2 linked regions of the Homo sapiens genome follow. The protein of the gene in region 1 interacts with the protein of each later gene in a pairwise test. Each region holds a gene or a part of one and is shown on either strand. Other genes may lie near its edges.

What was found.
Region 2: the proteins of FOXG1 (region 1) and KDM5B interact in a two-hybrid assay, tested with the Homo sapiens proteins (one study listed by BioGRID).

Annotation. Positions count from the first base shown.
Region 1 is NC_000014.9:28,762,817-28,769,904, reverse strand, and holds the start of FOXG1 (forkhead box protein G1), read right to left. Parts: upstream 3,119-7,088; 5' UTR 2,626-3,118; coding exon 1,156-2,625; 3' UTR 1-1,155. UniProt on the Homo sapiens protein: Transcription repression factor which plays an important role in the establishment of the regional subdivision of the developing brain and in the development of the telencephalon.
Region 2 is NC_000001.11:202,728,164-202,735,441, reverse strand, and holds part of KDM5B (lysine-specific demethylase 5B), read left to right. Parts: coding exon 1-13; intron 14-1,555; coding exon 1,556-2,041; intron 2,042-3,502; coding exon 3,503-3,614; intron 3,615-4,378; coding exon 4,379-4,533; intron 4,534-5,414; coding exon 5,415-5,735; intron 5,736-6,268; coding exon 6,269-6,406; 3' UTR 6,407-7,278. UniProt on the Homo sapiens protein: Histone demethylase that demethylates 'Lys-4' of histone H3, thereby playing a central role in histone code. Does not demethylate histone H3 'Lys-9' or H3 'Lys-27'. Demethylates trimethylated, dimethylated and monomethylated H3 'Lys-4'.

The sequences.
Region 1 (7,088 bases):
CAGGTATCAGCTGAAAAGCCTATACTTTGTTTAAAGCTAGTGTTTATTAAATAGGCTGCTCCTTGTAAAATTTGTTCACAAAGGGAAAAATACTATTTTCATTTTTAGAGTCAGTTCAAATTAAAGGAGCAGTTTAAATTTTAGTTTGGCTGAAAAAGCCTTTGAATTCCCTATAAGTTGATTGGTCTTTAAAAAATTAGCTCTACTTAATAAAAGAGACAAAAGTATCAAGATATATATGAATTTAGCCTATTTTTTATTTCTGTGTGTTCATAGTAAACATTTTTGTAAGTGACAAACACGGGCATATGACCACAGTATCACAATCAAGAAATTTTAAGACAACATTAACAATCACTCAAATTTATGCGGCATTTGCGCAACACAGGTTACATATTTGCAAGGTTTACCTATAAGTACAATAGGTATTAACATTTCACTACATTTAGAAAAAATAAAAGTGACCTGTTAGTGACCACATACATCAAAATATACACAACACAAACTGAAGGCAATCGTTAATTTTGTCCCCTTCTGATTCAATTGAATGGGCAGTGTTGCCAACTGAAACAACTTTCCTTTTTGTTTGTTTTAATACTTAGTATACCAAGTGCATTTTCTAGAACCCAATCTTTGGTCTAAAAGTAAACAAAAGAAAAAAAAACAGTTCTTTAAAGAAAAGGACAAAACAATAAATGGCCAAAATAATTTCTTGGGCACCTTTACTACGAATGCTTTTTAAATACAAATTACAGTTTAACATTTTAAAATTCTCCCCATAATTTAGGTTGTTCTCAAGGTCTGCGTCCACCATATAGTTCCATGATAACTTATAATACTGCACACATGGAAATCTGGCGGCTCTTAGAGATAGACTTGTCAGGTTTGAATGAAATGGCAAAGCAGTCACTATTTAGATACACATTCTACTATAATTTGACTTCCAAACCTTATATTCTACAATGTATTCTCCCCACATTGCACCTCGCTGACACTCCACACCTTGTTAGAATAATAAACAACCCTAGAGACTGAACAAACGTACAGAAATGGGAGGGGGGGGCTTAATAAAAAATACCTGGACTTATTTTTTTAATTATCATTTACAATGCAAATGTGTGTAAAACGTTCACTTACAGTCTGGTCCCAGGGATGTTAATGTATTAAAGGGTTGGAAGAAGACCCCTGATTTTGATGTGTGAAATAATCAGACAGTCCCCCAGACAGTCCCGTCGTAAAACTTGGCAAAGAGGGTCTTAAAGACTCACAGGGCAGGGTCGAGGGGGCCTGCGGCGACGTGGAGGAGGACGCGGCCCTGGCGCTCATGGACGTGCTGCTCTGCGAAGTCATTGACGGGTGCGGGACGTGGGGGAAAAAGTAACTGGTCTGGCCCGCGAGCAGGTTGACGGAGCAGGGGTTGAGGGAGTAGGTCCCAGAGCAGGGCACCGACAGGCCGCAGGGCACCGAGGCGGCTAGCGCGGCGGCCGTGAGGTGGTGCGTGGCGTACGGGATCTCCCCGTTGACCAGCCGGTCCACGCTCAGGCCGTTGGCGGTGGAGAAGGAGTGGTTGTTGCCCAGCGAGTTCTGAGTCAACACGGAGCTGTAGGGCATGGGGTGGCTGGGGTAGGCCGACGTGGTGCCGTTGTAACTCAAAGTGCTGCTGGCGCGGGGGTGGTGCAGGGACAGGAAGGGCGACATGGGCCAGTAGAGGGAGCCGGCGCGGTCCATGAAGGTGAGGCCGGTGGAGGTGAGGCGCGCACCGCGCTTGAAGGCCAGCTTGGCCCGCGAGGTGGTGGAGCGGCGCCGCAGCTTGCCCGTGGTGCCGCCGATGAACACGTCGTCGCTCGACGGGTCCAGCATCCAGTAGTTGCCCTTGCCCGGGTCGTCGTAGTGGCGCGGCACCTTCACGAAGCACTTGTTGAGGGACAGATTGTGGCGGATGGAGTTCTGCCAGCCCTGCTTGTTCTCGCGGTAGTAAGGGAAGTTCTTCATGATGAACTCGTAGATGCCGTTGAGCGTGAGCCGCTTCTCGGGGCTCTGCCGGATGGCCATCATGATGAGCGCGTTGTAGCTGAACGGCGGCTTCTCGTACTTGCCGTTCTTCTTCTCGCCCTCCTTGCCCCCCTCCCCGTCCTTGCCGCCCTCGCCCGCCCCCTTCTTCTCCTCCCCCCCGGCGCCGGCGCCCTTCTCCTTCTCGTCCGGCCCGACGGGCGCCAGCTCCCCCGGCCCGCCGCCCGGCTCGCCCTTGCCGCCCAGCCCGTCCGCTTTAGCCCCGTCCAGGGCGGCGGCCGGTGGTGGCGGTGGCGGCGGCGGGAGCAGCAGCTGCTGGGGGCCCTTGTCGTCGTCGGCGGCCGGGGCGCCCCGCGTCTGGGGGGGCTGCGGTGCCGGGGGCGGCGGCGGCGGCGGCTGCTGCTGCTGCGGCGGCGGCGGCGGTTGCGGGGCGGGCGGCGGCGGGTGGTGGTGATGGTGGTGGTGGTGGTGGTGGTGCTGGGGGTGGTGGCTGTTGTGGTGGCCGTGGCTCGCGTGGTGGTTGTCGTTCTGGACCGCCTCGGGCACCAGGCTGTTGATGCTGAACGAGGACTTGGGGATCATTTTCACCTCTTTCCTATCTCCCATGTCCAGCATCACCCAGTCGTCGGGGGGAAACGGCGGCGGCGGCGCGGGAGCGGGACAGCGGCGCGGCGGGCGGCGGCGACCGGTGGGTGCCGAACGGGGCGCGGGGGGCGCGGGCGGCAGCGGCGGCACTGAGCGCTCCGGCAGCAGCGCAGTTGGACCGCAGGCTCGGGCGCTGGCAAGTCATGTAGCAAAAGCAGCAACCACCCCTCAGGAATTAGAAAAAAAAAAAAAAAGGAAAAGAAAAAAGAAAGAAAGAAAAAAGAAACAACCACCGCCCCGGGGGTGAAGCTCCCTCGCTCCCAACTGTACTTCTTGGTCTCCCCCCCCACCCCCCGCTCCCCCCCCCGCTGCTTCCTCCTCCTCCTCCTCCTCTCGCAGCAGCAGTCACAGCAGCAGCAGCAGCAGCCCAAAGGGGGGGAGAGCCGGGCGGCGGGCGGGCGCGTCCCGGAGCGGCCGCGGCGAGGCTGGGGAGACAGCGATCGAGGCGGCTATAGCCACAATTAATTTTCCGAGCTACAGGCGCACACTAGGGCTGTAAAAAAATTTTTGGTTTAACCTTTCCTACCGCTGGGCCAATCAGAGCTGGCGGCGTGCGGGAGCGTCTCTCTCGCCGTCGACCAATCGGAGGGGCCGGGCCCACCCACCCCCGCCCCGCCCGCCGGCTGCCGCCCCCTCGGGCGCTCGCCTCCCCCTCTCCGCGGGCCTCGGACCCCGAGGCCGCGCGGAGCCGCGTAGGGATACGCCGGCGGGAGCACGCGGTGCCGCAGCCCTTCCCTGCGCCCCCGCCACCCCCTCCACCCCGCCGGCTCCGCTCCACCGAAATTCCCCTCCTAGGGCCAATAGCTCACATTTCCGGCTTCCTCCTCATTGTACTGGGTCATTTTCGTTTAAGCGTCAATATTTGTCCTTAGTGATTAAAGTTTGTATCCAATTTTATTTTTGAAAGCGGGGGTGGTGGTGGTAGTGGGAAGAGTGGGAGTGCAGGGAGAGGATGCGAGAGGGCAGGAAATGGAGGAGGTAGAGGCGAGGCACTACTTTTCCGAGTCGGCCTTGCAGGCCAGTGTCTGGCATTTCTGAGCCAGCAGGAAAATTGTGCCCTTTGTAGGTAATAGTCTAGCGCAGCTTTGGATAAGGGGGGAGATAAGGCCCACCGCTGGCGTGTGTGCGGGGGTGTCCTTTACTTCGGGGGAGGAGGGTGTGGGAGAGCTTTGGGAGCGATGAGATGAGGAGGAGGAAGTGGGCAGAGGAGCGCGGGGCCAAACAGGGGTTACTTACTCGATTCCTGAGGCCTGGGCGGCGGCGAGCTCCGGGCTCCGGCACCGCGGGGAAACCGGGACTGGGGCTCCGGGTGCTGCTGCGGCGGCCGGGGCCGCTCAGTAGTGGGCGCCTCTGATGGCCTTCCGAAATGAGAGGTGCCCAGAGAGAAAACAGTACCAAACAATCTCGAAATAAATCAGGTAACACATGCTATATACGTGTGTCTCTTCCTTTTCCTTCTCTCCTGCTCCAGAGCGTCGCTCACGCGCGGGGTGACTCGATGTCGTTTTCTCCTCGCCGCTCCAGCCTCAGCTTCTAATCCGAATTGGAAGCGGGTAGCTGCGAGCGATCACCCTGGAAATATTTTCGTTTTGCTTGTTGACATTGGAGGGAAAATAAGGGTGGGCGTCTATTTCTTTCCGGTTTTTTTTTTAAGCCTTCCTATTTTCACTCCTTTTTTTTCCTTTCCGTTTCTCAAATGCTTTTATTTTGTGCGGGCCTCATTCCTGAAATAACAGTATACTGAAGCCAGCTCTTGCCAACCCTGAGTGCTGCTGGAAAGCACCGGGGAGCCTTGGGAACGTGGATCTCACAGTCCCAGCTTCTTGGGCTTTGGAACTGGGAAGGTTCGGTTGGAGGTTGAAGTGAATGGGGAAATTGCGAATCGGGGGCTTTAAAAGGATCCCGTGGCCAGGGGCAGGGCTAAGGCCCAGCATTTCCCAGGGATTGGAATTTAGTGGGGAGCACATTGATCAAAGGCTGTTTCATCCCACATGGGCACGAAACATACCACATTTTACGGAGGATGTAGCCCCAGAGAAGAGGGAGGTGGAGAAGCATAAATGAAAGGCACCTTTTCCTTCCTCTAGAAGGTAAATAATTATAAAATGTAAGCATTTCTTCACTTGGATAAACTTTCATTAAGATATCTGGCAGATTTGGTATTTAAGAAAACGAAGGAAGGAAAATTGGTGCTTATGCTTGATCCTAAAGTTAAATTGTAACATAAAGAATGCGGTTGATGAATACTCAGGATAATAGGGGGTTATTCCATCCTCCCCACCCCCAGTCTTAAGAAAGAGAAAGAGAGAAAAGGTTGGGGGGGGGGGAGGAAACTGGAGAGAATAATAGATAATTACAAATAGCTAGTGAATTTTAAATATGCATCTATTAGGAATGCCACAAAGGAGCTTTGAATATTGGACTAACCTCAAATGTCCTTCCACTGTATGTATGTATCTTTACCTATGTCTACATATCTTCTCACTTTAAAACAAACTGTATTTACATGTGGAAAAATTCAAGGGTTCCAACAATCAGTGTTGATAGTGACATGGTCCCAAACATTTATTTCCAAGCTCTGGATTTCTCGCAGGGCCGGGTGAGCTAATGGGCTTTGCCTACCGGCTGGAGAGATTTGTGGGCCTTCCCCTTCCTACTCACTTTTCCTCCTCCCACTCTTCTCCCCTCTTCAGGCCCGTTCTTCCTACTTTTCCTCAACTCTCCTTCCTCCCTCCTCCCTCCTTCTCCCTTAGCTCCCCCCGCCCCTTCCCCCCACCCTCCATTCCTCTGTCTCTCCATTCCTCCACCTACTCCTCCCAATTTCTCCTCTTACAGCCCCCCTTCTCACCACCACTTATAATGGCACACAGGGCTCCCTCTGAGGTGGACGGCCCGGTACGTTTTCGTAGTCGGTCTAGCGTGAAATGATTCGGTGTAACCGGATTCTTGGGAAAGGACAGGTTACGTAAACATTTACTGATGTGGAGTAACTATACTATTTGTACTCTGATATGCAGGAAGGAAAGTGTTGATTAACACAGAAGAAAAAAAAAACGAAATTAGCTGATTGCATGCTCATAAGTGCAAGCTGTCATTGAACTGCTTTTAAAATAGACACAGCTGGGTGTTTGTGTTGAAAAATTTCTTGTGTTTTTGCTAATACTGAAATAAGCATGATTTTGTATACCAAACATTTTCAGATCATTAAAATTTGTAATCTGTGCTGGTTTTAAACACAAAGAAAAGAAACAGAATCATTTCGATGTAAAATTTGCTGATATTATATTAACTCAATCAGGTCTGTACAAATTGTGCATTGTGCCTCCTAAAATCTGTTTGATCAATTTAATACACAAAGTGCCAAACGTGGGTATTGTTTGTTAACATTGGACATTTTATTCAAATCCGAGCTCAGCAGCAAACTGGAGGAGCTTTCCTTCAATACAACACCAGCTCTGACTGATGAATTTTTAATGTTTTAAGGTGTTTCTTAGGTCAAATCTGAGCGTGCATTGTTTTGTAATCCTGTATAAAATTTTAGCAGGTGGAAATAAGTTTTTCTTCTGTTTACTTTCAAATAGCAAAAACTGGGGTTTGCTAATGAGCACTGTAATAATCTGATTTTATATGCTAGGAGCTCATATTGACTGGGAAAATGTTTTTCATTCAAATTAAGGCTATGTTATATAGTTTAAGGATTGCATGAATGCAAGTCTCTCAAAATAGGATATTCTTATGGGCATAAATAGTATATAGTTTAATGTAATATTTAAAAATCTATTCTTCCTAATGACAAAAGTTATTTGTAATCTGGCAAGAAGTGAGTTTTAATTCCTTTTAATAATTTCAATTGCACTTTATGTCGAGATGGTGATATATATATATACTCACACACATATATATGTGTGTGTGTGTATATATGTATATATATATAGCTTGTTCAACAAAACATGCACTGTTTACTCAGCACCCCGTGTTTGTCTCAGCAATAGCTTTTTTAAAGAACTGCTACTATTTGAAATGGAGGGGGAGGGGGGTCCTGGACAGAGTATTGTGCAAGTTGAAAGTCTCTGGATGGGGCTTTGTATATCCTACCAGCCAATTTGGGTGCAAATTGGATTTGAAGGCCTGCCTCTGTCCACCTCGGGCCTCTTCCCTAAGCACTGGAAGCCCAATCTTCAGCCCCACTCAGTCACCGTGATTACCTTCAGAAGACAGAGGGAATTCAGTTGTCTCAGACCTGAAACAAATTCTCTATCATTCTAATTTTTTTCTCATGATGGATCTAACCTTGATCTCTCACACAGACATCTACAAATGTGTACTATTAATGAATAAAAGCAGAAGTCAAAGTAAATGTAATTTTCTGGTATATATCACAGTAAACTTCTCTCTTGCTCTGTCTGCAGTCCCCCAGCTCTCCCAAAGAGGTC
Region 2 (7,278 bases), on another chromosome or scaffold:
GACTGCTTCAGCTGTATGTAGGGTTTTTTTCTTCTCCTTTCTATGTTATTGGGAAGAATAATTTCTAACCCTTTCTGTTTTATAGGAATTTGGAGAAGGCAAGTAGAGTAACTTGAAAGCGTTCAGTTTTACTAAAAAGACTTTTTGAAAATTGTCAAGTGTTAAGAGTTTTGAATGGTAAGATGCATAGAGGTGGGAAAGATTCAGGGTAGGCTTCCCAGTCTCAGGGTCTTGCAGGCACAGAAACAGTCTTGTTTAGTGCCTGTGGGTTGATCCAGGAATGCTAACTAAAGATATTGAGACTAATATTAATAGATGTATGAAAATGCAATGCTAATTTATTAGTTTATAGTTAAGAAGTACATTTAAAAGTTTACTGGATACTTTGATACTCATCTGGAATACCTTACATCTCTGACCTGCATTTAGTAAATACTGTTGATTCAAAGATGATAGTTTAAAGAAGATGAGGCAATGTATAACTAATGTTACACATTAAGCACCTTATCGGGATAAAAAAGGGATAGCTATGTGATGCTTTTAATGGCACAAAGCATTGCCCGTTCTAGAGTGGGAATGTATACCTGCTACTGGGACTAGATTGAATGGGTTCATCTGTGGATCTGGACACCTTCTCCCATTGATTTCTTTGTAGCTGCCAGACCTCTTGTGATAGACATGGGTTGCCTTGATTTATTTAGGTATTTTGACACAGATGTTCTTAGTGTATATTCGTATATTCAGTCAGGTTCTAGACAGAATTCTGCCATCAGAGGTCCTCCATTCCATCTGTGGTTTGTTTTTATAAAGACTAACTGAAAGTTACAGTCCCCCTCTCCTGAGGTGTATATATGTTGGTTTGAAACTTTATATGCAGTATCTTTTGTAGATTTTAGTCTGTCCATCTGTCTGTAGACCCCTGGTTTTAAGAATTCTCCCTACGTATTATCTGTTAATTTATGGTAGAACTCAAAGGTTAGTCATTTGCTTTCCATCTCTAAGCTGTCAGAAGTTACCTTGTTATCATATAACCCACACATATTACCTGTGTATTATATTTACAAAAGAAGTGGATTTTTTTTTTTTTTTAATATACCCAAAGGTCTTTACCTGATTTGCTTTTAGGCTTTTTTTTTTTTTTTTTAATAGAGATAATGGAGAGTTTATTCTGGCCTTGTAAGGGTGCTTCATCTGGTGAATCGTGATGGATCTGAAAGGGGATAGATGTGGTGATTGGAAATGGTTTTTTAACTGTGACAGATTTTTTGAGAACTTGTTTACTATGTGCCAGGCAAAGAGTGTCCTATCCCACATCTCTTACTTGTCATCTCACCCTGTAAGGTGGGCACTATTATCACCTCCATTTTACACATGCAGAAATTTAGCCACAATGGAATACATGGCACCAGGTCACTCACAGCTTAGTATGAGGCAGTCAGGATTTGAATACAGATGATCTACTCAGGATCCCATGCTCTTAACCACTAGGACTCTGAGTTTTAGGGGAAGGCCAAGCCATCTCGGACATCATCCTTGATTGTTAACTCTTTTTCAGATGGCAACTCTTGGGGAAGCTCGCCTAAGGGAAATGGAAGCCTTGCAGTCTCTCAGACTCGCCAATGAAGGGAAATTGCTGTCGCCTCTCCAAGATGTGGATATAAAAATCTGCCTATGTCAGAAGGCCCCAGCTGCCCCTATGATTCAATGTGAACTCTGCAGGGATGCTTTCCACACCAGTTGTGTGGCGGTACCCAGTATTTCACAGGGCCTGCGAATCTGGCTTTGTCCCCATTGTCGGAGGTCAGAGAAACCTCCATTAGAGAAAATTCTGCCCCTGCTCGCCTCCCTTCAGCGTATCCGAGTTCGCCTTCCTGAGGGAGATGCACTTCGATATATGATTGAAAGAACCGTGAACTGGCAGCACAGAGCCCAGCAACTGCTTTCGTCAGGGAATCTTAAATTTGTGCAAGATCGAGTGGGCTCAGGACTGTTATATAGCAGATGGCAAGCCTCAGCAGGACAGGTGTCAGACACAAACAAGGTGAATCTGGACTTTCCTTGTTGGGTTATTGGAATTTGCAAAGCTCTGTACCTTTCTCTCGAACCTGTAGCTTTGGTGTTGCTATTCCCTTGGTGTGATCACTTTACTGTTAACAGCACCCACTTTACCTGTAGCTTCCCACTTCAAGACCATGCAGGTATAACATATTCTTTTAATTTCCTCTGCTCCTATTAGAAGTTGTTTCCCAGGCACTCTTTCTATAGAGCACATATTTAGCTTTTCACAGATACAAATAATTTTTTCATTTATATGTATGCTGACCCATTTATATTTTACATATACGTATATGATGTATCTTTAAGTCTTTGCTTGACTAAAAAGTTTTTTACCCTGCTTCTTCTCATGTAAGTCAATTAGTAGAAAGGGAAAACACTTCCTGCCTTTTATCGCTTTTTGCCCTTTAAGGGAAAATATTTTTTGGAAGAAGTGTTTGAGCACTGTGTTATTTCAGAGGAAAGCTCCTGGGTTACACACCATTTGCGATCTTTCTGCCAAAAGCTGGATTCTTTTGACATCACTGGATGGGCAGAGTTTTCTGTTATCTTCCATAGGTGGCTGCAGTAAAAGAATGTGAAGACAATAGAAAAGTACAATCAGGAAGACAGTATTCAATCTTTATGAGGTTAATCTGATGGTTTTTAAAGTTGGTAAACATCTCTGTACCAGAGATACCACAACTCTCTTGTGCCATATGAGCACAGACACATGGATTATATGAGTTAAATTGTTGATAAGATGAAGACCAAACAAAAAAAAAAACAGTCTGTCATATTTGTTTCCTTGGTTTTTTATTTCTTTGCAGGCTTCTGAAATACAGTGCCTGACACATAGATGATGAATTAAATATTTGTTGCATAGATGAGTTGTGGCATTTGTGCACACTCCCAAAGTGGAGTCATTGGTGTTCTTTACCCAGGATGTGCTAGGAGTTTACCTTTCTTAGTAAAGGGAAAGGACACAACTCTTATATTAATTCATGGTCAAAGGAGTGTTTCCCCTAGCTCCTTTAATAAAACACTAAGGAAGATAGGAAAGTGGTTATGGATGATTTCTGACAGGTCCTCATTTGATTTACTCAAAGGGGTACATATGTGTTCATCGTATTTTAATCTTCAATAAGGAGAATTAGAAAAGGATTAAAAGGCTGTATGATCTGTTCTCACACTGAGAAAGTGGCTTATTTCCCAGTGGCCTTCTTTACATCTCTGAAATCAGTCCAAGTAAAACTGGAAAGATTAAAGGCTTGGTCTTTGGGAAGATATGAGTTGATTTGGCCAGTTCTGAAATGCCAGGAGACTCTTCAGTAGGGGAAAATCAAGTTGTTTTTTTTTTTTTTTCCCCTGGTTGCCTGCCTGGGTAATGCAAGCTACTGTCATTGGACTAATGGGAGTATTTTTAATCCTGAAGAGATTTTATTATAAAACGTTTTCCCTCCATTAGGTATCTCAACCTCCTGGCACAACATCATTTTCTTTGCCTGATGACTGGGACAACAGAACCTCATATTTGCACTCCCCCTTCTCAACTGGACGAAGTTGTATCCCCCTCCATGGTTTGTATTTTGTTATTACGTTGAGGGCTGGATAGTAATGAGTGATCTTGTATTACTAGGTTTTTATTATAGATGATCAAGTACCATAAAAAGGACTTTATGCTGAAATGTAGGATATAGGCTATTATGTATTTGCAAAATAGGGAAGGGATCCTATTTGAAGGCTTATAAATGCAAAGGAACAGAGAGGAAGACTTTATATCCATTGTCCTCAGGGATGAAAGGGTTCATGCCACACCAGCTGATAAACACCAAGCTTTTAAGTCAGATGCTAAGTCATGGGCTCTCTTGTTGCTTCATTACTTAGGAGACTTGTGGAGAATCTTAGGGATAATCCACATTTGCTAGAGTCCTGATCCTTAGTCATAGCATCTCAGTGTATGTCTAGTAATGTGGTTAGAGCTCCTTGATCTACTCAGACTGTTGACACTGTGGCCATCAGTCTGTTTCTGTGCTTTCTGTTAGAAGTCATCAAGGCAGAAGTACAATCTCTTCTGCATTAGCAATAAGGTAAATGAGAAGAGGATTCAGTGTATAATTAATACTAGTAATCAGAAGACTTAGGAAATCTAGTTTTGGCTCTGTTTATTATATTGTGGCTTTAGGCACATTAAACCTCACTTCAACTGAAGGTAATTTGTAATTTAAGAAGGAGAGGGTAGTAGTGGTATTAGGGGCAGTCCTTCTATTTGTCTCATAAACCCAAATGTGAATGTGAAACACCCTTTGTTGTTATCATTTTGATTTGGTCTGGTCTTTTACAGGTGTTAGTCCAGAAGTGAATGAACTATTGATGGAAGCCCAGCTGCTCCAGGTATCCCTTCCTGAAATTCAGGAACTTTACCAGACTTTACTTGCAAAGCCAAGCCCTGCTCAGCAGACTGACCGAAGCTCACCAGTGAGACCCAGCAGTGAGAAGGTGAGTGTCTGAGAGGCTTCTGGGGCAAGGCACAGTCTGGGGTGGGGGTATGCTTTATTTTACTCCTCGAAACATAACCAGACAGCTGGTGTGAGGACTGGGCGATTAGACTGAGGATGACCCATTTTGAATGCTGACTTAGTTGAAGGATACTCCTTAATGTCCTGTTTCTTAACATAGTTAAGGATACTGCGGCTGCTGCCACTTCCTTCTAGTGAACTAACTGACCCATCACATTTAAGGCCCCTGAGAATATAGTTAGGATAGAAATCTACTAGGAAGCCTGAAGCCAAATTAGGGAAGAACTTCACTAAAGATAGCATGAGGGCTGATGTTGGCATTTAGAATTTCATTTTTCATGGCAAATTTCATTTGCCATACCAAGTAGTATGGCACAATCATTGAATGTGTTCAGTTAATGCGCCTTACACCTATAAGGTGTGGGGGTGTACATCCTTCAAGAAGGAAGATTATTAGTGTGGTTCCTCAGGAGCCTGTAGGTCACAGGATAGACATAAACACCTAGACAGAAACTATTATAGTAGTTAGTCATTCAGGGATTTGGTGAAAGGAAGACTCTTAGTGGGCACCTCTCCATCTTCTGGTATTGGTTGGTTAATTGGAAGGGTAATCACGTCTTTAACATTCCTTTTTCCAGTGATCCTTTGGTAGCATTAACAGTGATAGGGGAAGGAAGTATGTTAAACCCAAACTGGTTGTCTTATACAAGACTGGGAGGGGAGTGGTTAAGATGCAGTATTTTTTTCCCGTGTAGATTGGGGGATCATCTGATTTCTAATTTACATGTTCTCTTTAGCTTCATTAGTTTTAGTAATAGGTGACCCATAGGCGAAAATTGAACTTTCCTATCTTCCACCCAGAATGACTGTTGCCGAGGGAAGCGAGATGGAATTAACAGTCTTGAGAGAAAACTGAAGAGACGCCTGGAAAGAGAGGGCCTCTCCAGTGAGCGGTGGGAACGAGTTAAGAAAATGCGGACCCCCAAAAAGAAGAAAATCAAACTGAGCCACCCCAAGGACATGAACAATTTCAAGTTAGAGAGAGAGCGTAGCTATGAATTAGTTCGTTCTGCTGAAACTCATTCCCTGCCCTCAGACACATCCTATTCCGAACAGGAAGACTCTGAGGATGAAGATGCCATCTGCCCAGCTGTGAGCTGCCTGCAGCCAGAAGGAGATGAGGTCAGTGAGGTTTGGGCCATAGAGGACGTGCTTTCCCTTAACTCAGAAACCCTGTAAGCTAGACCTCATCTCGCTGGGTCTTTCTCCTCTGCTTATCTGCTTTGAGCTGATCTGAATGGATTGCTCAGCCCTTCCCCCACTGATATCTGTGCTCTTACCATCGTTCCTGGGTCTCCTCCCTTTTCTTGAAGAAACTCTTGTTCTTCCCTTTTTCCTTTTCTTGCTCTTCCAGCTTTCACCTTCCCGGCGCTAAGAAGGTGGGAGGGATGCTGATGTGATGCCCTTTGGCTTACTTATCACAGGGCAGCGCTGTCTTAACCCCAAAGCAGACACGACTTGAAGAATGACTTTGACTCGGTTGCTTTGGCTAGGGGGCCAGCTACACTCATTTGGCTTAGCTGTTGTGCCAGAGGTCCCAGTGGTGGGACAGTGGCTGTTATTGGCAAACGGCCTGAATTTCTTGAGGCTGGCCTGCCCAATTTTGAATCCATTTTTTCCTCTGAAAACCCCATCTTCCTGCTCTTTGTAACCAGGTGGACTGGGTCCAGTGTGATGGCAGCTGCAATCAGTGGTTTCATCAGGTCTGTGTTGGTGTCTCCCCAGAGATGGCAGAGAAAGAAGACTACATCTGTGTGCGCTGTACTGTGAAGGACGCACCAAGCCGAAAGTAAAAACACAAAAACAGATACCCCCCTACTTAATGTAATTCAGGACTCCAACCAAGAGGATTTCTTCAAATCTCAGCAAAGCTACAGGACTGGTACTCAAGCCAGCCTGTAAACGGTGCTATTTCTATTCCTTATGGGATCATTTTTCCAGGACTCTTTGAAGAAAAGAAAAAACAACTAAAAAAATTTTTGACACTTTTTGTATTTTTTCCTTAAGAGCTATTTGTGGTTGTTGAGGTTTGAAAAGCTGACTGTTTTTTTTGCAGGGGTTCCCACCAATTTGGAAGGCATTGAAGCTTGCACCTTTTCATGTACAGCATTAAAATTTTACCTCTCTCTGGGATTTACCAGCTTAAGAGTCCAACTCACTTCCAGTGCCCAAAAGGGCACCCACCAGAAATTCCAGTAAATCCTCATTTGAGGAAGCTCTCCCTTGTTTACTCTGTTACCACATTGGGGAAATTTTTAAGTTTTTCACTTTGGGAGTTTTTGTTTGTTTCTTCTTTTCCTTTATCCACTTTTCTTCTTCCTGGTAGACTAGGTTTATTTATCTGAGCAATAACTTCTATGTTGGTTTCAGTGGCTGGAATTAAAACAAAACAAAACAAACTTCCAAACAGTGTGTTGGTGCTTTAGCGATTGATTGATGTACAGAACACAAATGTCTAGTTTCTAGTGTCACTGATGAACTAGTGATGTAGAAAAGAGACTTCTCTGTAAGTAATTGCCACAGCTGTATTTTGGCTTTCTCCCTGTCCCTTCCTTTCTCCCCTATTTTTTGGTAGCTTGTATCAAATGTTACAGTTTATATTGTGGAATAAATCCTTCGTCCTAACATAACACTAAATGCTGATTATTTAGAGCCATTAGAGCAC